Linked DNA regions of Homo sapiens. The protein of the gene in region 5 interacts with the protein of the main gene of each other region in a pairwise test. Each region holds a gene or a part of one and is shown on either strand. Other genes may lie near its edges. The genes, in order: ATXN3, CEP76, RBM10, IQUB, PATZ1, WWOX and PRDM14.

Region 1 (3,500 bases), on a different chromosome or scaffold from region 5:
CATGCTTATTGCTGCTGGGTTTGTTATGTAGTTATTGTGAATTCACATTTAGGAATATAGGGTTTTTAATTCTTTGATTTTAGATACTTGTATCTTTTTTCTTTTATATTTAAAACCTTGGTTCCTGATGATATCCCTTCTTAGAAACCCTGTCTACCTTTGGCCTTCAGCCCACCATGCTGTGGTTTTCCTAACTTGCTGCCTGCACTTTTCAGATTCCTTTCATGGATCTTAAATATCATCTGTAAATAAGATCTATGTGTCAATAATTACCAAACTTTTATCTTTAGTCTTGACATCTACCCTGAACACCTAGCTTTGACTAACTCCTAGCTTTGGCATCTCCACTTGGAAATCCAAAAAGTGTTTCAAACTGAACATGTCTATGAAAGACTTATTTTTTTCTCTCTATCCATGCTATCCATCAGGTTTTCCATTTCCATAAGGGTGACTCTTGTACTCTGGTTCCTATATATTATACCGACAGAGCAGCCCAGAGTGCTTCTTAACCAGTGTAAGGCCTGTTATGTCCCACCCTCACTCTTTGTCCTTCAGTGGCTTCCCAGCACACTTAGAATAAAATCTGAAGTCTTAGGCCGGGCTTGGTGGCTCATGCCTGCAATCCCAGCACTTTGGGAGGATGAGGGGGCAGATCACTTGAGGTCAGGAGTTGATGAGACCAGCCTGGCCAACATGGTGAAACCCTGTCTCTACCAAAAAATACAAAAATTAACTGGGTGTGGTGTTGTGCACCTGTAGTCCCAGCTACTCGGGAGGCTGAGATAGGAGAATCACTTGAACCCGGGAGGCAGAGGTTACAGCGAGCCAAGATCATACCACTGCACTCCAGCCTGGGTGACAGAACGAGACTCTCAAAAAAAAATTAAAAAAAAAAAATATGTGAAGTCTTGAATAAAACCCAAGATCTTTACCATGGCCCCTGAACAGGGCAGAGTATCCATTCTTCAGACACTCTTCATAGAATACCATGGTGAGCTGGCATATTTATTATACAATACAGAAACAATTTTACTGGCAGAAAACACATTAAACCGTCTAAACTCTGAATACAGTTGTCCTCATAAAAAATGTTCAACATACTATTTTGAGGTTTTCCATTAATAGTTCTTATAATCTTTGTCCCATTATGTGTTAATCCAACAAAGGATATCCAATAACAAACACCAAAGTTTAAGAAAAATGTGCTAGGCGCGGTGGCTCACACCTGTAATCCCAGCACTTTGGGAGGCCGAGGTGGGCAGATCACCTGAGGTCAGGAGTTCGAGACCAGCCCAGCCAACATGGTGAAACCCTGCCTCTCCTAAAAATACAAACATTAACTGGGTGTGGTGGTGGGTGCCTGTAATCCCAGCTACTCAGGAGGCTGAGGCAGGAGAATCGCTTGAACCTCCTGGGAGGCAGAGGTTGCAGTGAGCTAATATTGCACCACTGCACTCCAGCCTGGGTGACAGAGTGAGACTCCATCTCAAATTAAAAAAAAAAAAAAATTAATGATAGAGAAACTTAAATCAGTTAGATTGTTTTAGGTATAGCCCATCCTTGGTTTTTGTGTGTAGCATCTAGCTTGGGGAAACCCTGGATTTCTGGAATCATATTTAGACACAGTCACACTAGACTAATGTAATTCTTTTGGGATGCAAACCACACGTTTGACACCTTAAATAGCTTTTAGGTATTTGGCTTCCCAGCCCCTATTTTTAGTTACAAGGGGTGTACATGTGTGGGTCAGGGTGGGGGTAGCTCTTTCCGCAGATGATTAGTTTTAGCCATGTTACTAGTTATTGCACACATTATCTGTGTCCTCACAGCAGCCCTGTGAGTAAGTGTATTAGGGTTCTCTAGAGGGACAGAACTAATAAGGTAGATGTATATATGAAGGGTAATGTATTAAGGAGTATCGACTCGTATGATCACAAGGTGAAGTCCCACAATAGGCTCTCTGCAGGCTGAGGAACCAGGAAGCCAGTCCAAGTCCCAAAACCTCAAAAGTAGGGAAGCTGACAGTGCAGCCTTCAGTCTGTGGCAAAAGGCCTGAGAGCCCCTGGCAAACCACTGGTGTAAGTTCAAGAGTCCAAAAGATGAAGAACTTGGAGTCTGATGTTTGAGGGCAGGAAGCATCCAGCATGGGAGAAAGATGAAGGCTCAGCAAGTCTAGTACTTCCACACTCTTATTTCTGCCTGCTTTATTCTAGCTGAGCTGGCAGCTGATTAGATGGTGACCACCCAGTTTGAGGGTGGGTCTACCTCTCCCAGTTCACTGGCTTAAATGTTAATCTCCTTTGGCAACACCCTCGCAGACACACCCAGAAACAATAATTTGTAGCCTTCAATCCAATCAAGTTGATAATATTAACCATCACAGGAAGGTACTAGTATCATATGTTTAACAGTAGAAACCAAGACAAATGCAGCTAGGAAGTGGGAGAACTGGGATCAGATGCAGGCAGTCTGATTCTAAATCAGTTGCTGTTACCCACTCTGACAACAGTAAGTGAGTAGCCTGCTCAGTCAAGTACTATATTAGTAGGGCCCTTTACAGACATATTTATTTCTCACAGTCACTCAATGAGACGGCTCTTCCAGTCTTACAATGGAGAAAGTGAGGCTCAGAGACTTTAAGTAACTTACCTTAGACGACTTTACTAGTAAGTATAAGAATCATTATTTGGACTAAAGTCTTTCTGAATCCTCAGCTTGTATTTTTTTCCAGTGTTCTGTGCTGCCTTTTTATCTACTAGTGTTTTACATCAATTTTGAATCTCTTTACTAACTGGTTAGGTTGATTTTTGCCTTTTTTTTTTAGGTTATTCTATATTTGTCGTTAAGGGTGATCTGCCAGATTGCGAAGCTGACCAACTCCTGCAGATGATTAGGGTCCAACAGATGCATCGACCAAAACTTATTGGAGAAGAATTAGCACAACTAAAAGAGCAAAGGTAAAAATGAGGCCTGCAGTATGGAATATATGGTAGTATTTCATTATGAGAATTAAATTTTCATGCTTAGATTGAATATGTGGTCCTTGTGTTGTTGGCGACTCTATTTTGGACCTTATATTTTAGTGAAGTTTATTAGTTTAAACTTGAATCAACTCTTTGAAATACTTAAATATATTAACTTAGTTAGCTGGTATGGTATATTCCTAGCACTTCGGGAGGCTGAGGCAGGCTGATTGCTTCAACCCAGGAGTTCGAGACCAGCCTGGGCAACATGGCAAAACCTCATCTCTACAAATAGTACAAAAATTAGCCAGATGTGGTGGTGTATGCCTATAGTCCCAGCTACTTGGGAGGCAGAGGAAGAAGGATCACCTGAAACTGGGGAGGTAGAGACTACAGTGAGCCATAATCACACTACCGCACTCCAGCCTGGTCGAGAGAGTCAGACCCTGTCTCAAAAAAAAAAAAAAAAAGAAACGGAAAAAAAAAACTTAGTTGGATTCAAATTGCAACACAATCATTATATTACTAGAGCTTATT
Region 2 (3,500 bases), on a different chromosome or scaffold from region 5:
TTATAAAAACAATAGTTATAAATCAAAACGTTAATATACATATCCAGGCCAAAAAAATTTCTAATGTATCCAGCACTGAAAGTAAAGTAAAGAACTTTTTTTTGTTGTTGTTGTGAGACAGAGTCTCAGTCACCCAGGGTTGAGTGCAGTGGTGCGATCTTGGCTCACTGCAACCTCCACCTCCCAGATTCAAGTGATTCTCCTGCCTCAGCCTCCCAAGTAGCTGGGACTACAGGCACGTGCCACCATGCCTGGCTAATTTTTTGTGTTTTTAGTAGAGATGGGGTTTCACTGTGTTAGCCAGGATGGTCTCGATCTCCTGACCTCATGACCCGCCCGCCTCGGCCTCCCAAAGTGCTGGGATCATAGGCGTGAGCCACCACACCTGGCCAAGAACTTTTTGCAATGATGGAAATGTTCTGTATCTGTGCTAACCAGTATGGTAGCCACCAGCCATGTACTGAGCATTCAAAATGTGGCTATTATGACTAAAAATAATTGAATTTTAAATTTTAATTAAAATTTAAATAGCTCATAATGGTTAGTGATTTTCTCACTGGACAGTGCCCATTCAGAGGTTGAAATATTAACTTTTCAAAACAGTTAAGTAGCTTGTGGGGATATATTTAGATAATATTAGAATATTGCTGTAATAAAATGATATATCTTACATTCTAAGATGCTACTATTGATGATTGACTTAGGCAAATGCTTCCACTTCTTATGTGCTCATCTTTTCTTGCCTGTTAGTGGATTTGTAAGAATAGGAGTAACAGTCCTGCACCTCAATACTAACCAAAGATCTGTAGATTTGCCGTGGCCATTATACTTAAAAATTCATTATTCTTTTTACCCTTTGTTAGCTGGTTTTGCTATAGTATAGTAGTAATTCATTGAATGATGCTTTTTGAACTTTTTAGTGCAAGAAACTTTAAAATAAGTTACAGAAATTGAACTTTAAGGCCACTAGGTTTTGTTTTTTTTTTTTTTTTTTTGAGATGGAGTCTCGCTCTCGCCCAGGCTGGAGTGCAGTGGCACGATCTCGGCTCACTGCAAGCTCCGCCTCCCAGATTCATGCCATTCTCCTGCCTCAGCCTCCTAAGTTGCTGGGACCACATGCCTGGCTAATTTTTTTTGTATTTTTAGTGGAGATGGGGTTTCACCATGTTAGCCAGGATGGAATTGATCTCCTGACCTCGTGATCCACCCACCTTGGCCTCCCAAAGTGCTGGGATTACAGGCGTGAGCCACCGTGCCCAGCCTAAGGCCATTAGGTTTTAAGAAAATGTTGTAAATCACTTGAGGATTGAGGATATTCTTTTAATATTTAGTTTGTGATTTCAGGACTTAGTATTCTTATACCACACTAGATTATTAGTAATGCTAAGTTCATGTAAAAGAAAACCATAGTTCTCTACATCCCCCCAAAATTAGAATAATAATCCTCTGTTTTAAAAATCGGTGCCCTCTAGGCCAGGCACAGTGGCTCACACCTGTAATACCAGCACTTTGGGAGGTCGAGGTGGGCGGATCACTTGAGGTCAGGAGTTTGAGACCAAGCCTGGTCAACATCGTGAAACCCCATCTCTACAAAAATACAAAAATTAGCCAGGTGTGGTGGCACATACCTGTAATCCCAGCTACTCAGGAGGCCGAGGCACAAGAATCGCTTGAACCCATGGGCGGAGGTTGCAGCGAGCCGAAATCACACTACTGCACTCCAGCCTGGACAACAGCGAGACTCTGTCTCAAAAAAAAAAAAAAAAAAATTGATGCCTTCTATAGTTGAGAACTATAGGTATGAGTGGAATCTATAGCCAAGTTGCTCTGCAACATAAAAATTAATGATCTTTCTCATTATAATCAAATGTAAATAAGTGAGTTTTTTTTTCCTTGCTAAAGTATGGGACTATATTGGAAAAAGATGTTCTGGTTGTGGAGAAAGACATCAGTGGTTCTGATAATTCAAACAGATGGTGTTTCTTTTGGCTGGGTTAGATCTCATGTCCTGAGGAACCCTATCAGGGAGGGTAGGTCATCTCCAAATCTTGAATAGTAAGTGGCCCTTTCACAGTGCCGTATCAGTAACCATGAAGGTAAAGAGATTGTGGACTTTGGTAATACTCACTGTAAAATCACAGTGGTAGACAGTCATCAGAGACCTATATATGCATACAAGTTATTCAGCACCAACACCAGGAGATATCCTGTATTTAGGATGTAAAACTTTTTCTAGAGTGTTTTTTGAAATTTTGCTTTCAATTGACTTGGTTAACAAATTATTGTTTCCTGTGGATCTCTAAATTTGAGGCCCTAATGGAAACAAACTAGAATCAAGCTACAATCATTTCTGTTATATCAGCCAATCAGAAGAGTTATTTGTTCTGTCTGGCTATATGTTGTTAAATTCTATATGGTAATGTGAAAAAATACTTCAGCTTAGAGCACCTCTCCCTCCCCTACATACCTACCCACACATTTCTCAGAGGAGTTCTTATTGCCACAGCCTTTGGAGTAAAACAGCTCAGAGCTTGAACCTGGCTCTGTTGCATAATAGCTGTAGCTCCTCAGTTTTCATCTATAAAATGAAAATAACGGAGATGAGGATTAAGGGAAATTATATACACAGCACTTTGCAGCCAAATACTGGATACAAGGTAAGCACTCGATCAATGGTATGCTGAATTATTTTATCCTACATTAATGTATTTGAAAAAAACATAATTGGGGATGATTAATATGTCATTACAGATGTTTTTCCCCTTTTCCCTAGGATGAAAATGGGATAAATAGACCAGTCTGTTCCTATGTTAAACCACTTCGAGCTGGACGGCTTCTTGATACTCCAAGGCAAGCAGCAAGATTTGTTAATGTCCTTGGTTATGAACGAGCCCCTGTTATTGGAGGAGGAGGTAAACAGGAGCAGTGGTGCACTCTGCTGGCCTTTCTCTGTAGAAACAAGGTATTATACACACATAATAGAATTAAGTAGCAGTATATCATAGTTACTCTGAATTTGTAATCCATTTGTAAAAGAATGCCTTAGAAAAATGCACATATAGTCAACCCTCTGTACCCACAGGTTCTGTATCTGTAGATTCAACCAACTGCAGATCAAAAATACTTACAAAAGTAAAAAATTACAATAATAAAAAATAGTACAAATTAAAAAATGGTGTGTAACAACGTTTATGTAGCATTTACATTGTATTGAGATTTTTAAACAATTTAGAGGTGATTTAAAGTATATAGGAGGATGTGCTTAGGTTATATATAAAATACTATACCATTTTGGCTGGCCGCAGTGGCTCATGCCTGTATCCCAGCATTTTGGGAGGCTGAGGCAGGTGGATCACCTGAGGTCAGGAGTTCAAGACCAGTCTGGGCAACATGGTGAAACCCTATCTCTACTAAAATACAAAAAATTATCTGGGCATGGTGTCGTGTGCCTGTAATCCCAGCTACTCAGGAGGCTGAGGCAGGAGAATCACTTGGACCCT
Region 3 (3,500 bases), on a different chromosome or scaffold from region 5:
TGCTGAGGATGGCTACACAGAAGGGGCTGCCTGTCAGCCCTAGATTAATTGCTCTTCTGCAGACTGCCTTTATGGGAAAGAAAAGTAAACTATCTTGTCTAAGCCATTATCCTTTGGACTTTCTGCCACAACCAGCCAAAGTAAATCTTAATTTGTGTACCCAGTATCACTTATACTATTTAATATGGTACTAAAAGTCCTGGACAATACTATAAATGAAGAAAAATAAATAAGTGACAGGATAGATTTGCATACAATATGACCAACTACTTAGAAAGAACATCAGAATCAACAATGAAGTATTAGAAATAATAAGGGCATACAGCAGGGGTAACTTACAGAAATCAACAGCTTTCCTCTACCCCAGCAAATACCAGCATGAAAAATATTTTTTAAAAAATAAGATAATGGCCTGTAATCCCAGAACTTTGGGAGGCCAAGGTGGGTGGATTGCTGGAGCTCAGGAGTTCAAGATCAGCCTGGACAACATGGTGAAACTCCGTCTCTACAAAAAATTAGCTGGGCGTGGTGGTGCGTGCCTGTAGTCCTAGCTACTTGGAAGGCTGAGGTAGGAAGATCACTTGAGCCTGTGGAGGTCGCCACTGCACTCCAGCCTGGGTGACAGAGCAAGACCAAGTCTCGAGAAAAAAAAAAAAAGATAATGAAAGTGACTGAAGTACCTAGGGATTACTTTAACAAAGAATACATAAGACCTGTATTTCCATTTATGAAAATGAAAGCTTTTTATGCTCTTTACATAAATTTCAAAATATTCTCTACAAAGGTCTTAGATGAAATGACTACTTACAAAGATAATTTTCCCCAAATTAATAGAGAAGTTCAGTGTAACATCGATCAAAATTCTTGTTGTTTTTGAGGGACTTTGATAACTTTTGATATATAATAAAGCCCCATAAATGATTAAACCAGCTTTGAAAAATAAGTGCAAAGGAGCTACTAAGACATTCTATAAAGCCATAATAATAAAAACAGTAAGGTGCTGGCACAAGAATGTGCAAATAGACCAATGGAACAAATCACATCACTCAAGACGGATCCATGTACATGAGGGAACCTGAAATCAGATGAGGTACCACAGATCAATAAAGAAAGAATGGACTATTTAGGAGGTGGTACTGGAAAAACTGCCTACTATATGGAAGAAAATAAAACCGGAGCCTACCGTATGCCATATTCAAGAGTGGAATCTAGATGGATTAAAGATCTGAATGCAAAAGGTAAAAACTACATTAGGCTGGGCGCAGTGGCTCACACCTGTAATCCTAGCATTTTGGGAGGCCAAGGCGGGTGGATCACCAGGTCAGGAGATCGAGACCATCCTGGCTAACACAGTGAAACCCCATCTCTACTAAAAATACAAAAAATTAGCCAGGTGTGGTGGCGGGCGCCTGTAGCACCAGCTACTCGGGAGGCTGAGGCAGGAGAATGGTGTGAACCCGGGAGGCGAAGTTTGCAGTGAGCCGAGATCGTGCCACTGCACTCCAGCATGGGTGACAGAGCGAGACTCATCTCAAAACAAACAAACAAACAAACAAAAAACACTATACATTAACAGATAAAGCAAAAAAGGTGACGTTGGGCTGGGCACGGTGGCTCACGCCTGTAATCCCAACACTTTGGGAGGCCGAGGCAGGCGGATCACCTGAGGTCAGGAGTTCGAGACCAGCCTGACCAACATGGAGAAACCCCATCTCTACTAAAAATACAAAAAATTAGCTGGGCGTGGTGGCGCATGCCTGTAATCCCAGCTACTTGGGAGGCTGAGGCAGGAGAATTGCTTGAACCTGGGAGGTGGAGGTTGTGGTGAGCCGAGATCGCGCCATTGTACTCCAGCCTGGGCAACAAGAGCGAAACTCCGTCTCAAAAAAAAAAAAAAAAAAAATGATGCTAGCACATCAAAATTAACAACAGGCATCTACTCTTGGGGGAAGTATTAAGTAAAACTCAGTAGACATGCCCCATGATGCCCTTGCCAGCAATTAGAAACAAAGTAGTAACATATACATGGCAATACAGACAGATGTTAAAAATACAGCACTGTGCCGGGTGTGGTGGCTCATGCCCATAATCCCAGCACTTTGGGAGGCCAAGATGGGAGGATCACCTGAAGTCGAGAGTTCGAGACCAGCCTGACCAGCATGGAGAAACCCCATCTCTACTAAAAATACAAAATTAGCCAGGCGTGGTGGCACATGCCTGAAATCCCAGCTATGTGGGAGGCTAAGGCAGGAGAATCGCTTGAAACCGGGAGGCAGAGGTTGTGGTCAGCCAAGACTGCGCCATTGCACTCCAGCCTGGGCAACAAGAGTGAAACTCTTTCTCAAAACAAAGAAACAAAACAAAACAAAACAAACAAACAAAAAAAAACAGCACTGTTGGCCAGTTACAGCGGCTCATGCCTTTAATCCCAGCACTTTGGGAGGCCAAGGGAGGAGAATTGCCTGAGCCCAGGAGTTTGAGACCAGCCTGGGCAACATAGAGACACCCTGTCTCAAAACAAAAAACAAAAAACAAAAAAAACCTCCCACTCTGAGTAATACAAAGTTCAGGAAACAAAACGAAGACTGTGGCACCATGCCATGTGTGTCAACTGAAAACACAGTCACTCAAAACAACACTTCATATTTTCATTTTCTATGAAAATGTATCTATATGATACATTTATGTATGTATTTATATGATACATGTATCTATATGATACATTTATATGAAAATGATCTATATGATAAATCTATGATACATTTTCTATGATATGTATCATAGAAGGATACATTTTCTATGATATGTATCATAGAAGGATACATTTTCTATGATATGTATCATAGAAGGATACATTTTCTATGATATGTATCATAGAAGGATACATTTTCTATGATATGTATCATAGAAGGATACATTTTCTATGATATGTATCATAGAAGGATACATTTTCTATGATATGTATCATAGAAGGATACATTTTCTATGATATGTATCATAGAAGGATACATTTTCTATGATATGTATCATAGAAGGATACATTTTCTATGATATGTATCATAGAAGGATACATTTTCTATGATATGTATCATAGAAGGATACATTTTCTATGATATGTATCATAGAAGGATACATATCAAACACGACAGAGCAGCTGCCCACAGAGGTGGGAATTGGGAATAAAAATGAAAAAATAAACATGACAAGAGGAAGCCTTTTGCTGACCTATGACAGAAACCTACCTTGAACTGGAAAGTATGATGAACTCAAACCTCTGCACTTGAGGGCTTTTAAAAGTCAATGGTTTTACTTGGTAATAAAGTTTGAACAAAGTATGTATGTCAGCTACTCAAATTCAGAAATGGCCACAGAGCACTTCTAGTGAATACCGTCCAAAATCAAATGTCTTTCAAAAAACATTTCTAATGAAAGCCAAGACTGAATAACACTAGGTGATGACCTTATCTCAAATTTGGGCTCACTTTTCAGAAAACAAAATA
Region 4 (3,500 bases), on a different chromosome or scaffold from region 5:
ACCCATTGAAATTTTATAAGAAGATTTACTTTTGCCACAGTTGCCAGCTTTATTTGCCTTCTACAGAATTTTCTGTATCATCCACCTCACGCCGCATATACCGGTGTCGTAACTGCATTAACCTTCAGAATGAGGCTCAAAAACGAGAATCATTTTTGAAGTACAAATGTTTACTTCAACAGCTCTACTATACAGAAGCTGATTATGAAGATGATTCTAAAATTGCTTTCTTGATGCAGGTATGGTCAATAAGGGGTGCCAATTATAGCTGAAGCTTGTCAAGGAGGCTATCTTGCAATCTTATGTATGTTTGTGTGTGTGTGTGTGATTGTTTAATGACTCTCTATTCCACTAGACTGTAAGCTCTGTGAGGGCAGGAGTATGCTTTTTTTCCCTCCTGCTCACCATTATACCTCTATAACCTAATACAGTACCAAGTTTTTATTTAAGGCCCTCAATATTTGTTGAATGAATGAATGACTTTTACAGAAACTGATGTTACATATACACATACTAGTGTTTACGAATAACAGTAATAATTAGTGTAAACCAAATGTGACCATAATGGTAAATAACACCAAAAGTGAAAGCTAAGGCTTATAGAAAGTAAAAAAAAAAAAAAACCTTAGGGAAAGGCTTTGATACTTGTCTATGTAAAGTGTTGATATGATACCACACAACTGGAAAGTTTCTGGCCAGAGTTCTTTTGGATGAATCATTGCATTGGATCATTGACCCTACGTAATCTGCTTCTCGTAAGAACTTCTAGCTCTGTGAGAGGGTGGAGCCTGTGAGATCAGGAATTCTGACCTGAATTCCTAACTTAACCACTACTTCGGTCTCTTTGGTTATTCCATGTCTTCTATTGGGTTTAGGCCAGAGGATAGTCTGTGTCTCTACAAAATAAAAACAAATTCCTGACACTGTTTGGACTTAGGTAAGCAAGTGAGAAAACAGAAGGACTTACTTGTTGTTGATATGGCTACCCAACATTAGCCACTTATTAATAAAAGTATATTATAGAGCACAATTGACCTCATTAATGATATTTGTGTTCACAGACTGTCAAATAAGGGCAAATTTTCTGTAAATTAGTTACTAATTAAAATGAACTAAATTGTATTTAATACCAAATAGGAAAGTAGGCACTACTATGAATAGAAAACTTTATAGAGATTAAAAAAAAGATACCAAATGTGATGTGCTTTGTTAAAAAATTCTTCTAAATCCATAGCTTTCAAACTTTTAAATCTCAATCTATAGTAAAAATGTATTTTTATGACAACCTGATATAGGCATGCATGATAATTCTCAATACTCAGTACCTATATGGCTTTACACACTTTATTGAGTTAATCAGCACAAAAATCCTATCAAAATAGGCATTATTTCCATTCTGCAGGTGAGGAAAGGGAAGCACTGAGTGGTTAACTAACTTGTCCAAGTTTACGCTACTAAGTACCAGCACCAGGATTGAAAACTAGGCAGTCTGATTCCCAGCATCCGTACATGTAAACACATGCTGTTCTGCCTCAGAAATAAAAGTTTCCAAAATAGTGTTTATCTTTACCCCTATGGATGTACTCTGATATTTTCTATTCAATCTCAGTCTACTTATTCTGATTTCCATTTGGAAAACTTTGGTATCACCCAAGAGGTAGCAACCCACAGTTTGAAAAGCACAAATTAAAATGATTACATATTTTGTCCAATAGAATGAATATTTTGTTAATAAATTTGATGTTTATTTCAGCTTAAATTCTTATTTGCTACTTTTATTCAGGAATTATTGACATGACAGATGTATATTTCCTTGTAGAGAATCTTAGATGTACTAGGGCTTTAATGTAAGTCACCAAGAAGTGCTGGCTCAATATTCCATGTTGTATTAGTCAGATTTCTCCTGAGAAACAGAACCAATAGAAAATGTTATACATATATGTTATATATATATACATATAAGGAGATTTGTTACAAGGAATTTGCTCACATAATTGTGGAGGCTGGTAAGTCTAAAACCTAAACAGCTGATGGCCCAGTTCAAGTCTGATGACCAGCAGGCTGCTATAGAGCCAGGAGGAGCCAGTGTCTCAATTCAATGGCCATTAGGCAGAAACAGTCTTCCTTACTTGGGGACAGGGTGAACTTTTTGTTCTATTCAGGCCTTCAACTGATTGGATAAAGCCCACTCACATTATGGAAGACACTCTGCTTTACTCAGTCTACTGACTTACTTAAATGTTAATCTCATCCAAAACTACCCTCACATAAACACCAGAATACCGTTTGACCAAATATCTGGGTATCCGGTGGCATCATCAAGTTGATGTAAAATCAACCATTACACATATTGAATGAAAAAATTCTAGGGGAGCATTGTAACCTTTCAGATAAGGATAATCTCCATTAGATGTGATTTAATTTCAGTACCGTATCTATGTAGGGTTTTGGTCTATTACTTTTCCAATGTCTAGGATTAGCAGACAAATATGAGTGTCCAGTAGCTTCCCCCCCCTTGTAATTGGTGTAGTTTTGATTAATATTTATTTCAGTAATAGTATTTGAGGCATAATTTGAATGTTTGAACATTCTCATAAATAGTAAATCTTGTGGACAACAGCAAAGATTAGCATATGTTAAATGTGAACATGATGCCATGTAAAATGAAAAGGTGAAAGTTAATATATATAAAAAGTAAACATTCTGCTTAGACAAGAGATTTGAGTGTTGTACTAGTCACCTCGTTTATCTGTAATGCATACAAATACTGCCTAATATAATAGGCAATAGTATTGCTCTGTTACTGCAAAAATTTCAAGTACAATGACTACTTGAAAGGTAGAAAGCTCTTAGAGACTGTCAACCACACTTATGTGCACATTTGACATTTACATGCAAATAAACACGTTATTCTGTATGATACAATTTCAAAATTATTAGTACAGTTGAGCAACTAAATTAAAAACAAAAATGTAAACAAGATGCATTTTGAATGTAAGTAAAATATATAAAACATTGAATTTTAAAGGTCTATAAATTTATTTTTCATAGCAGCTGTGTACAGAGTATTGTCTTTTTTAGCATTAAGTAAAAGCTAGAATGCATTAGTTGAGCTTAATATATTGAATTACCAATTTATGAAATACTGTTGTAGCTGATGATGACAGGTTCTTTTTGTTTTTTACTTTGGCAGATTGTTTAGGTTTTGTGTACTCATTTTACAGAAAATATTTCTGCTCTCACACTTTTTCACAGAAGCTTTTTTAAAAAATATTCTTTTTACATGCTTATACTTTGTTGAGTTTGTCCGTCTCTGGCAATTCTAAATTTATAATGCAGACCCCATGATAAAAAGTCATTCCAAGAGTTTTAGCTGATAAGATTTACGTTTTTTAAAAAGTTTTAAACAGCTATTTCATTACCCCTCTTTTTGATTAAAACAACCAAGTCTTTTAATTAACACTAAGTGAATTACTTATCTTTATTAAATCTCAACTTCC
Region 5 (3,500 bases):
ACCAAGGGCACTAGTGCACACCCCCACCCTTAGTAGCCCTTGAACTCAGGCAGCCTCAGGGGTAGTCTCAAGCAGCTTTCTCCCACAGCCCTGGAAAACTCTAAGGGCAATGCATGAAGGTTCAGCTCCCTGGGCTCTTTGGCCCCCTTCTTCTCGAGCATATGCCCATCTCAACGCATTCCTTCTCTAACCAGCCCCCAAGAAGTGGAGCCCGTGGAAGCTAGGGAGGTCTGAGCTGCTCCAGCCTCTCAGCTTCAGGTTGAACTCCATGTGGGGGAAATGTCCCAGCCCACTAAGCTCATAAATCCAGCAGTACCTGGGGCATCTGGGCCAGTTAAGGACACTCAGGCCAAGTCCCAAAGAGACATGCCACTGTCAAGCCTGAGGCTTCCTGCCCCTACATTCAGATGGCCTTTCTACTTAAGCTATGGCACTAGTCTCTGTAACTGGCCTCTTTCATTCTCTCTGGCATCAGGAGGGGATGAGCGATACGGACTGTGCCTAGCCAGTGGGGAACTCAAGGAATGAACTCCCAGAGAGCCGTCTCTTCACCTCTTATGTTTTCAGCATCCCCACACTATGCCAACAGGTGCCCCTGCTGTTTAACCAAGTCCAGGCACACCTGGCTGGCCAGCCCAGAGCAAGAGAGCCAGCATGTCTTCACCTGCTGGGTCCGTTAGGGGAGTTGTGGCTGTAGGGCTGGAGGAGGGGCCAGCAGGTCTGTGAGAGTGTATGTTGGGAGGGGCAGGGCAGGAGCGCATTTGTACACCAAGGGACAGTGATGTCAGTGTTATGACACAGACCAAGGACAAAACACACAAAGCCTCAAATGTTAGAATGAAAAATTTTATCATCACTCCTGTTCACCCCGCAGAGTCTGCGGAGTGCTAAAGGGCACACCAATAAGGATCCGAGGGAGGGGGTCTACATCTGCTTTTTCAGCCCCCAAAGCCATATATTGGGGTGGCCCAATATAAAGCTACTCATTAGTTTGGTTCCTGAGCAGACCTGCTAATAAACCTCAAAAACACAAAAGTCTACTTCACTAGCCAGAAATGAAAGCAGGATCTAGATCTGAGTGGGAAGGGCAGAGGGCAGCATGGGTTGACTCTAGTTGGAATTGTGCCAGTCTTCTCTGGAGGCCGACTCACTCGTGGAGTGGGGAAAGGGGTGGCCAGGCCCCAGTCTAGAAACCCCAGGCCTATGGGAAGTGATGCCAGGGGAAGGGAAGCAGATAAGCTGGTGGCTAGTTCCCAGGAAGGCACCAACCTCCAAAATCACCTAGGCAAGGACAGATGCCCAGGGGTGCCATCTGTGAAAGGGGGGAAAAGGCAAGAGAGCCCAGAAAGAAACTTGGATGCTATAGGGGGTTCCAGAAAGGTGCTCCTTGCTACCCCCATTTGGGGGCTCTGACATGGGAAAGACTCCGAGTCACCCAGGGAGGAGCTGGGCATGCTGGGCAGGAACCACCCTGCTAGCCTCTCCCAAAAGCAGGGGTCTCAGGCCAAATGCCCCTCCTGTTCCCTTCCACTGTCAACCCTCTCCAGGGAGGCCCAGGCTAGCCAACAGGCCACTGGGTAAAGGCCCTGCTGCCCTCTGGGGTGGTCCAGCCCTGCCTCAGATATCCCGGCGGGGCTGGGCAGAAGAGAGTGTTGCTGGAGTGTGCTGGGCCCAGGTTTTCAAGGGCTGGGAATGATTTTTTTAGAGAAAGGGAAAAGGCGGTGTCAGGAACCGAATGGGACGACCTCCACAAAGCAGGCTGGGCAAAGTCCCATGATGGCAGGTCGCTAGGAAGAGGTTCCAGGGGCGGCAGGCCGCTGCTGCTCCCAACCCACACCTGGAAAAAGGGCAGAGAGTGCAGGTTACCCCCCCAGGCCACCGGGCTTGCCCCCACTGCCCTCTGGGCTCCTCCTACTCTGCCCGGGCTAATCAGCACACTACCTGAGTCAGAATGTGCTCTGTGATGAGAGAATCAGAGACAGAGAGAGAGAAGGCAGCAAGGCAAAGACAGATCCCAGCAGGCCCACCCTGGGTCATCCTCCAGGGAGACTGCCTAGCCCAGCACCTGTGAACACCGTCCACGCCTGACCCCCAGGGGCTCTGCCCTACTTACGGCACATTCATCCCTCCCTGCTGGTCTCCCTGAACCCTCTCCCCTTGCCACCAACAGGATAAGGAGAAGCAGGTTATCCTATCAGAGACTGCAGTGCACACCCCACAATCATGGCTCGCCCTCACTTGATGGGAACTTGGCATGGGAGAGGGGAGATAACCAAGGAGAAGACAGAGGTGTGTTCGCTATCCACACAGGAAGGCTCAGTGGCCAGGAGAGGAAACTCAATCTTTTGGGTACCAGCAGGGCCCCCAGATATTGTTCAAGCAGGTAAACCAAGGGTGAGAATCTATCTGGTCCAGCGTTTCCTACCTGCTACTTTGCAAAGAGCTAAAAGAAGAAGAGCCCACTTTGCTCTCCAGTCCTCCAGAAACCCTGGCTTAGGATGGGTTAAACAGATGCCAGTGTGGGAGAGGGGACCACCCACTCCCTACCTCCTACCTCCCCCACTGCCTTGTGCCCTAAGCTGAGGGGACCCAGGAGGAGCTCTAACTGAGGTCAGAAAAGGGGAAGAGTGGTTGGCTGGACCACCAGGAGCCCTTTTAAAAAAACCTGCAGTCCCTACAAACTGCTGGAAACCAACAGTCAGGCCCAGCGCAGTGCCGGGTCTCCCAACACAACATCTGTGTGATACGGCCCACCATCCAAGGAGCCGGCAAACACCAGGAGAGGAAAGCCAAGCAACAGAGTGAAGGCAAAGACAGGGTGGGAACCAGGACCAAGCAACCAGGAAGGAGGAACGTCAGCTGTGGGGGAAGGGGGCCTGGGGGAAGAACAAAGGAGGAGAGCAGAGGGAGGGTGGAGGAACAGAGGGGAGGTGTGCAAAGCGGTGGGCGGTCAGCCGGGCCCCCGGCACACGCAGCGGCTGGCTCAAGGCTGCGACCGTGAGAACAGCATCATCTCCTTCAGCCCATCTCTGCCCTGACCCAGCCCCTACCTGACACTTGTGAGGCCGCTCAGAAGTGTGCACCTGCTTGATATGTCCGTTCAAGTGATCAGGCCTGGAAAAGAGAGAACCAAGAGGGACTTTAGAAACTTGGCCAGACCCCACCACACAGGCACATATGCATACGTGTGTACACACACACACACACTCACTGCTGGAAAGGACTCCCTCTCCCCAACCCCAGCATGACAAAGACAAAGTCACCACCCAGTTCTGGCTCCACAGGCCCAGGCCTCTCTGCCCTGGTTTTCTCTGGAGGGGGGAAGAGAAATGGGCATTTGTCTCTGATTTTGCCTCCCCACTCCCTCAATTCTCCCCACCAGAAACTCAGTGTTTTCTAGGACCAGAGGCGGTGGCAGTAGAATGAAACAGAGCTGCCTCACTGCAGCCTTTCCAGGAGGGGATATGTGATTCATTGTCCAGACTAAAGCCCCTTAGAAA
Region 6 (3,500 bases), on a different chromosome or scaffold from region 5:
ATGCTGCTGGTCCAGGAACCATGCCTGAGAACTGCTGCTCTTGGTTGATTAATACCCATTTCAGGGAGTAACTTTCCAAGCGTGAATGCAAAGGCAAAGACTGCACAGGAGAAAATTGATTTGACTACATAAAAAATTTAAGAAATTCAGTCAGGTGTGGTCGCTCATGCCTGTAATATGAATGCTTTGGGAAGTCAAGGCAGGAGGATCGCTGAAGGCCAGAAGTTCAAGACCAGCCTGGGCAACATACTGAGCCTCAGTCTCTACAAAAAAAAAGTCTTTAAAAATTAGCTGGGCATGGCAGCATGAGCCTGTAGTCCCAGCTCCTCAGAAGGCTGAGGCAGGAGGATCACTTGAGTCCAGGAGGTTGAGGCTGCAGCGAGCTGTGACTGTGTCACTGCACCTCAGCCCTGGATAAGAAGAGCAAGACCCAGTATAAAAAAAAAAAAAGAAAGAAAACTTGGAAAAAAAAAAAAAACATTTTCAACATTTTCAACATACAACCAATGCGTTGATACCCTTAATTAGTTGAGGAAAAAAAACTTTCACAAGTTAGGCAAAAAGCCTTTTAACAAATAATAGGCACTCCCACCTATCCAACTGCTAGACAGCCCCGTCTTCCTGGGGCTGCCTATGGTGGCCTGGGAGACTTCTCTCAAGCAAGCTTTGGCCTATTTGCTCTCAATATCAGTTTTGCACCAAAAGTTCACCAGGTTTGCTCAAAAAACACACATGTCATTTGAACTTGTTACTGTAACTACATTACCAGCAAGCTACTATTACACAAACTGATAACATGGGAGGTGAAAAATAGTGTCAGTGGTATCTATGAAAATGTGGTCGAATGCTTTGGAGAGCCTCAAAGACAAGCAGCTAAAAAAAAAGTTTTGGTTCAATCAACTACAGTGAAAATGCTAGAAAAATACCATAAAACTCCCAAATGATGTAGCAATCAGATTCTTTGAAAATACTGTGTTTGCTCAACCTTAAAGTTGTAGGGTCCAGCCCTACTGGGCTTAGCGGGTGTTCTCCCCGTGTGCAGAGACGAGGGATTGTAATAAATAAAGACACAAGACAAAGAGATAAGGAGAAAACAGCTGGGCCCAGGGTGGGGGCCACTACCACCAAGATGTGGAGACCGGTAGTGGCCCCGAACGGCTGGGCACGCTGATATTTATCGCATACAAGACAAGGGGGCAGGGTAAGGAGGGTGAATCTTCTAAGTGATTGACAAGGTGAAGCAAGTCACGTGATTACAGGATAGAGGGCCCTTCCCTTTTAGGTAGCCGAAGCAGAGAGAGAAGGCAGCATACGTCAGCATTTTCTTTTCTGCCCTTAAAAGAAAGATCAAAGACTTTAAAACTTTCACCATTTCTTCTACCACTATCTACTACGTACTTCAAAGAGGAACCAGGAGTACGGGAGGAGCATGAAAGCGGACAACGTACGTGACCATTGAAACACAGCACCACAGGGAGGGGTTTAGGCCTCCGGATGACTGTGGGCAGGCCTGGATAATACCCAGCCTTCCACAAGAAGCTGGTGGAGCAGAGTGTTCCCTGACTCCTCCAAGGAAAGGAGACTCCCTTTCGCGGTCTGCTAAGTAACGGGTGTCTTCCCAGACACTGGCGTTACCGCTTGACCAAGGAGCCCTCAAGCAGCCCTTATGCGGGTGTGACAGAAGGCTCACCTCTTGCCTTCTAGGTCACTTCTCACAATGTCCCTTTAGCACCTGAGCCTATACATGCCAGTTATTCCTAGGTTATGTTAGTAATGCCACAAAGAGTAATATTAAAAGCTAATGATTAATAGTGTTTATAGTAATGATTGATAATTGTCCATGATCATCTCCATATCTAACCTGTATTATGACTATTCTTATTCTAACTACTTTCTTTATTATACTGAAACAGTTTGTGCCTTCAGTCTCTTGCCTCGGCACCTAGGTACTCTTTCGCCCACATAAAATGAAAGTAGAAATTGTAGATGTTATGTTACAGGCATGCTTAGGGGAAGGAAGACCACACTGGATCCATGCAAGTGGACTCACACTCAGAGGAGGGCTGGCCCGACCCCTAAATGTTGGTGTACTTGAATCAAATACTGAAACGTTTATGTTACATTCATAACTTTAAAAAAAAAAAAAATTCCTGCTCAAATCAACTTCTATTAACCAACCAATCCTAATCCTGTCAAAGACTATTCAAGCTTCTAATTTAAATGTTGACAGTTGTGAAACATTAATTCTCCTCTTAACTACGGTGGTCAAGAGTACAGTCCCTGGAGCAGGTGCTGGGCTCAAAGCCTGGCTGTGCTACTTCTTTGCTGTGGGATCCTTAACAAGTCACTTACCCCCTCAAGTCTGTGTCACTGGCAGTAAGCTAGGGATAATAACAATACTACCTCTCAGGGCACTGTGGGGATCCAATGACCTAATGCTACAGATACAAGATGATTAGAATCAGGCCTGGCTCATGCTATATGTTGGACAGGTGGTTACTATTGCTGCGTGATACCGGAATTTATCCTAAAGACAGAATCAGAGAGGTGAAAAAGTCTTACAGATAAGGATGCTCAATACATTATTTATAATTATAGGTTCTCTATAACAGGAATTTAGCATTAATGTCCAATAGGCAATTTGATAAATTATAGTATATCTGTACAAAATAATAACTCTAGAGCTGCTAAATAGCATCTTTTTGAAAAATAGATATGGATACAAGAAAATGCTCATAATATATTACATGGAAAAAGCAGGTTACTAAACAGTCCACACAGTGCATTCCCTCTTTTTTTTTTTTTTTTTTTTTTGAGAAGGAGTCTCATTCTGTCACCCAGGCTGGAGTGCAGTGGCGCGATCTCAGCTCACTGCAACTTCCGCCTCCTGGGTTCAAGTGATTCTCCCGCCTTACCCTCCCGAGTAGCAGGGACCACAGGCACGTGCCACCACACCCAGCTCATTTTTATATTTTTAGTAGAGACGGAGTTTCACCATGTTGGCCAGAATGGTCTCGATCTCTTGACCTCAGGATCCACCCACTTCGACCTCCCAAAGTGCTGGGATTACAGGCATGAGCCACCATGCCTGGCCTCCCTACTTTTTTTTTTTAAGGATGCGTGTGCGGGGAAAATAGAAGAATAAATCTAGCGATGTTAAAAGTTCCAGCGATGTTAAAAGTAGTCACTTCTGCTAAGATTACAGATACACACTGTTATACTTTGTATTTTTCTACAGTTACTATGTATTACTTTTATAATTAAAAATTCCTATTAAAAAGCAAAACAGCTGAGAGTGGTTTCTTTGCAGACACTTACTCAACAAAAAACACTTGTCCGTTCTCATCAGTTTCTTGTTCCCATCCGTATGGCAAATCTGAAACACAAGAAAGACAGGTCTACAGGTGCCAGGGAGAAGTAAAGACCATCCCTGGGTCAGGAAGGGAAGGAGCCCTCCCAGCCCCGCCCCCAAGCCTGTCCCTCCCACCCAGCAGTTGTCA
Region 7 (3,500 bases), on a different chromosome or scaffold from region 5:
AGCATCCTTCACAGATTAAAGTAGTAATAATAGCAGTTAACATTCCAGTAGTACTTTTATGTTATGCCAGGCACTGTTACAAGAGTTTTATATACTTTACTGATGTTATCCAACAACTTGGTAAAGACTATTCTCCCCAGTTTATCAATGTGGAAACTAACAGGAGTTCATGGACTTGCTCAGGGTGGCACAGCTAGGTAAGCACCAGAGGCAGGATTTGAAACTTGGCCATGTTTGTGTTCTTAAATACTATGAAATAGTGATTTTTTTTTTTTTTTTTTTTTGGAGACGGAGTTTCACTTTGCCACTCAGGCTGGAGTGCAGTGGCACAATCTTGACTCACTGCAACCTCTGCCTCTGGGTTCAAGTGATTCTCCTGCCTCAGCCTCCCAAGTAGCTGGGATTACAGGAACGTGCCACCATGCCCAGCTAATTTTTGTATTTTTAGTAGAGATGGGGTTTCACCATGCTGGCCAGGATGGTCTCGAACTCCCTATCTCCAGGCACCTGCCCACCTCAGCCTCCCAAAGTGCTGGGATTACGGGCTTGAGCCACCACGCCTCCCCACCCCCTCCTTTTTTTTTTGAGACAGTGTCTCACTCTGTCACCCAGGCTGGAGTGTGCAGTGGTGCAATCTTGGCTCACTGCAACCTCCACTTCCTGGACTCAAGCAATTCTCCAGCCTCAGCCTCCCAAGTAGCTGGGACTACAGGCATAAGCCACCGATGCATGGAAAATTTGATTATAGGTGTGAGCCACCACACTCAGCTAGTGCTTTTAAATACTATGTAATAGGTCATCAGGTCCCCATAAATTTGGAATGTATTTTATTACATGTACTCTAAATGCCAGCTTGGCAATAGGAGGTTGGTTATATTTGACCATCTTTAGCAAACTTGAGCATATTTAGGGGTGGAAATGAGGACTGGGCTGATATTTGACTAACATTTACCAAGAACTCATTAAGCCAGGCTTTGTTTCAAGTTCTTATCCATAGACACTCAAGCAGAGCTCAGGACACATCCCTTAGTAAGAGGTTCCATTTACCTTAGTACAATACACACACTGGTATGGTCTGTCTCCAGAGTGGACTCGCATGTGTTTGTTTAGGCTGGAAGATTGAGAGAAACATTTCCCACATGTAGAACACTAAGGTGAAAAAGAAAAATATAGTTGAAATCACACCTTCCTCTAACAAGTCCATTTCAACCTTGCGTTTACCTGGGGTTAGAGAAGAACTCTTTTCCAATTTTTTTCTTTTTTTTTTTTTTGAGACGGGATCTCAATTTGTTACCCAGACTGGACTGCAGTGGCACAATCACGGTTCACTGCAGCCTGGAACTCCCAGGCTCAAGCGATCCTCCCACCTCAGCCTCCTGAGTAACTGGGACTACAGGTGCGTGCCACTAAGCCAGCTAACTTAAAAAATTTTTTTTTGTAGAGATGAGGTCTCACTATGTTGCCCAGCCTTGTCTTGAACTCCAACAGATCCTCCTGCCTTGGCCTCCCAAAGTGCTAGGATTATAGCCTTGAGCCACGGCACCCGACCTGAGAGAACTCTTGCTTCAGATGTGGAATGTGGGAACTGAACAGGTTTGTGGTATATGGCAGAGGCCTGAATTAGTCCTGCTCTCTCAACAGGTAGCTGTGTGACTACAGAACATTGGTTAAATCTGGAATCTTAGTTTCCCGATCTTGCTCATGGGCAAAATACCTGCTCTGCCTTCCTCACAGAGCTATGAGTAAACTACAAGTACTGTGCAATTAACTCAACAATTATCTACGACTTACAGAGTACCTACTGTGTGCTCCACACTGCTAGAAACCAGGAGCTAGAAATCAAGGAGGGGTGACGATGAACATGTAAGCCAACATGGTAATGCACAGTAGCAGATTATCTGAGACGTGTTGAACTTGCATGAAGAGGTTAATATTTTGTTCACACGCTGTGAATAATTAATATTGTTTCTTGACCCTGGCAACTCCTCTCGAAACTGTCTCAGGAATTCTACACCAGGTGAAGTAAACTACCAGAGAGGTGCAAGCACCGAGAGTTTGCCAGGGATAAAGCAGAAGGCCTTTGGTTTTGACATCACTTTTAAGGAAATTACACTAACTAAAGAGAAAAAACAATTTTTCTCTGAGAAAGGTTTCTGTGCTTTCACAACCTCTTTCCAGGCATGCTTATGGGGCAGAGGAGAGAGCAAATCTTTGTATTTGTTTATTTATTTATTTTTATTTATTTTTGAGGCAGAGCCTCGCTCTGTTGCCCAGGCTGGAGTGCAGTAGCATGATCTCGGCCCACCGCAACCTCTGCCTCCTGGGTTTAAGCAATTCTGGTGTCTCAGCCTCCCGAGTGGCTGGGACCACAGGTGCGCACCACATGCCCATCTCTACAAAAAATACAAAAAATTAGCTGAGCATGGTGGCATGCACTTATAGCCTCAGCTCAGCTACTTGGGAGGCTGAGGTTGGGTGATTGTTTGAGCGTAGGAGGTGGAGGTTGCAGTGAGCTGAGATCATGCCATTGTACTCTAGCCTGGGCAACAGAGTGAGACTGTCTCAAAAAAAAAAAAAAAAAAAAAGATTGTTCCTCCACTGTACTGTAAGAGCACCTCGTCTGTTGAAGGGTAAGCCATCATCTCACTATCACCAGCTTCCTCATCAGTCCTGTCATCTACTGACCTCCTGGTTGACAGCCCTCCAGTTTCTTTTCTTTTTTTTTTTTTTTGAGACGGAGTCTCGCTCTGTCACCCAGGCTGGAGTGCGGTGGCGCGATCTCGGCTCACTGCAAGCTCCGCCTCCCAGGTTCACGCCATTCTCCTGCCTCAGCCTCCCGAGTAGGTGGGACTACAGGTGCCCACCACCACGCCTGGCTAATTTTTTGTATTTTTAGTAGAGATGGGGTTTCACCATGTTAGCCACGATGGTCTTGATCTCCTGACCTCGTGATCCACCTGTCTCGGCCTCCCAAAGTACTGGGATTAGGCGTGAGCCACCACTCCCGGCCTCCAATTTCAAAGAGAGCAAGCATTCTATACATCTTCTGTAATTTGGTTTTTGCTTGATAAGACAATATTTTTTTTTTTTTTTTGGGATGGAGTCTCACTCCTGCCACCCAGGCTGCAGTGCAATGACACAGTCTCGGCTCACTGCAACCTCCGCCTCTGGGGTTGAAGCAATTCTCCTGCCTCAACCTCTAGAGTAACTGGGGCTACAGGTGCCTGCCACCACACCCGGCTAATGTTTTTATATTTTTAGTAGAGATGGGGTTTCGCCATGTTGGCCAGGCTGGTCTCGAACTCCTGGCCTCAGGTGATCTGCCCACCTCAGCCTCCCAAGGTGCTGAGATTACAGGCGTGAGCCACTGCGCCTGGCCAGTAAGCCATAATTTATATAATCAATTTTGTGTTGATGAACATGCAGTCTCAAACTTTTCACTATCAGAATACTGGATAGTTTTCACTTTTGCCAGTCTAATAAGCGAGAAATACCTTCAC

What was found.
Region 1: the proteins of PATZ1 (region 5) and ATXN3 interact in binary tests that used the Homo sapiens proteins (3 or more experiments, as listed by UniProt).
Region 2: the proteins of PATZ1 (region 5) and CEP76 interact in binary tests that used the Homo sapiens proteins (3 or more experiments, as listed by UniProt).
Region 3: the proteins of PATZ1 (region 5) and RBM10 interact in binary tests that used the Homo sapiens proteins (3 or more experiments, as listed by UniProt).
Region 4: the proteins of PATZ1 (region 5) and IQUB interact in binary tests that used the Homo sapiens proteins (3 or more experiments, as listed by UniProt).
Region 6: the proteins of PATZ1 (region 5) and WWOX interact in binary tests that used the Homo sapiens proteins (3 or more experiments, as listed by UniProt).
Region 7: the proteins of PATZ1 (region 5) and PRDM14 interact in binary tests that used the Homo sapiens proteins (3 or more experiments, as listed by UniProt).

What each region holds. Positions count from the first base shown.
Region 1 is NC_000014.9:92,082,583-92,086,082, reverse strand, and holds part of ATXN3 (ataxin-3 reference isoform), read left to right. Parts: intron 1-2,579; exon of another isoform or gene 2,580-2,670; intron 2,671-2,824; coding exon 2,825-2,957; intron 2,958-3,500. UniProt on the Homo sapiens protein: Deubiquitinating enzyme involved in protein homeostasis maintenance, transcription, cytoskeleton regulation, myogenesis and degradation of misfolded chaperone substrates.
Region 2 is NC_000018.10:12,685,724-12,689,223, reverse strand, and holds part of CEP76 (centrosomal protein of 76 kDa), read left to right. Parts: intron 1-2,773; coding exon 2,774-2,962; intron 2,963-3,500. UniProt on the Homo sapiens protein: Centrosomal protein involved in regulation of centriole duplication. Required to limit centriole duplication to once per cell cycle by preventing centriole reduplication.
Region 3 is NC_000023.11:47,148,221-47,151,720, reverse strand, and holds part of RBM10 (RNA-binding protein 10), read right to left. Parts: intron 1-3,500. UniProt on the Homo sapiens protein: Binds to ssRNA containing the consensus sequence 5'-AGGUAA-3'. May be involved in post-transcriptional processing, most probably in mRNA splicing. Binds to RNA homopolymers, with a preference for poly(G) and poly(U) and little for poly(A).
Region 4 is NC_000007.14:123,458,096-123,461,595, reverse strand, and holds part of IQUB (IQ motif and ubiquitin-like domain-containing protein), read left to right. Parts: coding exon 1-239; intron 240-3,500. UniProt on the Homo sapiens protein: Adapter protein that anchors the radial spoke 1 (RS1) complex to the A microtubule of outer doublet microtubules in axonemes. The triple radial spokes (RS1, RS2 and RS3) are required to modulate beating of the sperm flagellum.
Region 5 is NC_000022.11:31,339,847-31,343,346, forward strand, and holds part of PATZ1 (POZ-, AT hook-, and zinc finger-containing protein 1 isoform long C), read right to left. Parts: intron 3,115-3,500; coding exon 3,051-3,114; intron 1,838-3,050; coding exon of another isoform or gene 1,559-1,837; exon of another isoform or gene 833-1,558; intron 1-832. UniProt on the Homo sapiens protein: Transcriptional regulator that plays a role in many biological processes such as embryogenesis, senescence, T-cell development or neurogenesis. Interacts with the TP53 protein to control genes that are important in proliferation and in the DNA-damage response.
Region 6 is NC_000016.10:78,109,654-78,113,153, reverse strand, and holds part of WWOX (WW domain-containing oxidoreductase), read right to left. Parts: intron 3,377-3,500; coding exon 3,319-3,376; intron 1-3,318. UniProt on the Homo sapiens protein: Putative oxidoreductase. Acts as a tumor suppressor and plays a role in apoptosis. Required for normal bone development. May function synergistically with p53/TP53 to control genotoxic stress-induced cell death.
Region 7 is NC_000008.11:70,054,253-70,057,752, forward strand, and holds part of PRDM14 (PR domain zinc finger protein 14), read right to left. Parts: intron 1,150-3,500; coding exon 1,048-1,149; intron 1-1,047. UniProt on the Homo sapiens protein: Transcription factor that has both positive and negative roles on transcription. Required for the maintenance of embryonic stem cell identity and the reacquisition of pluripotency in somatic cells.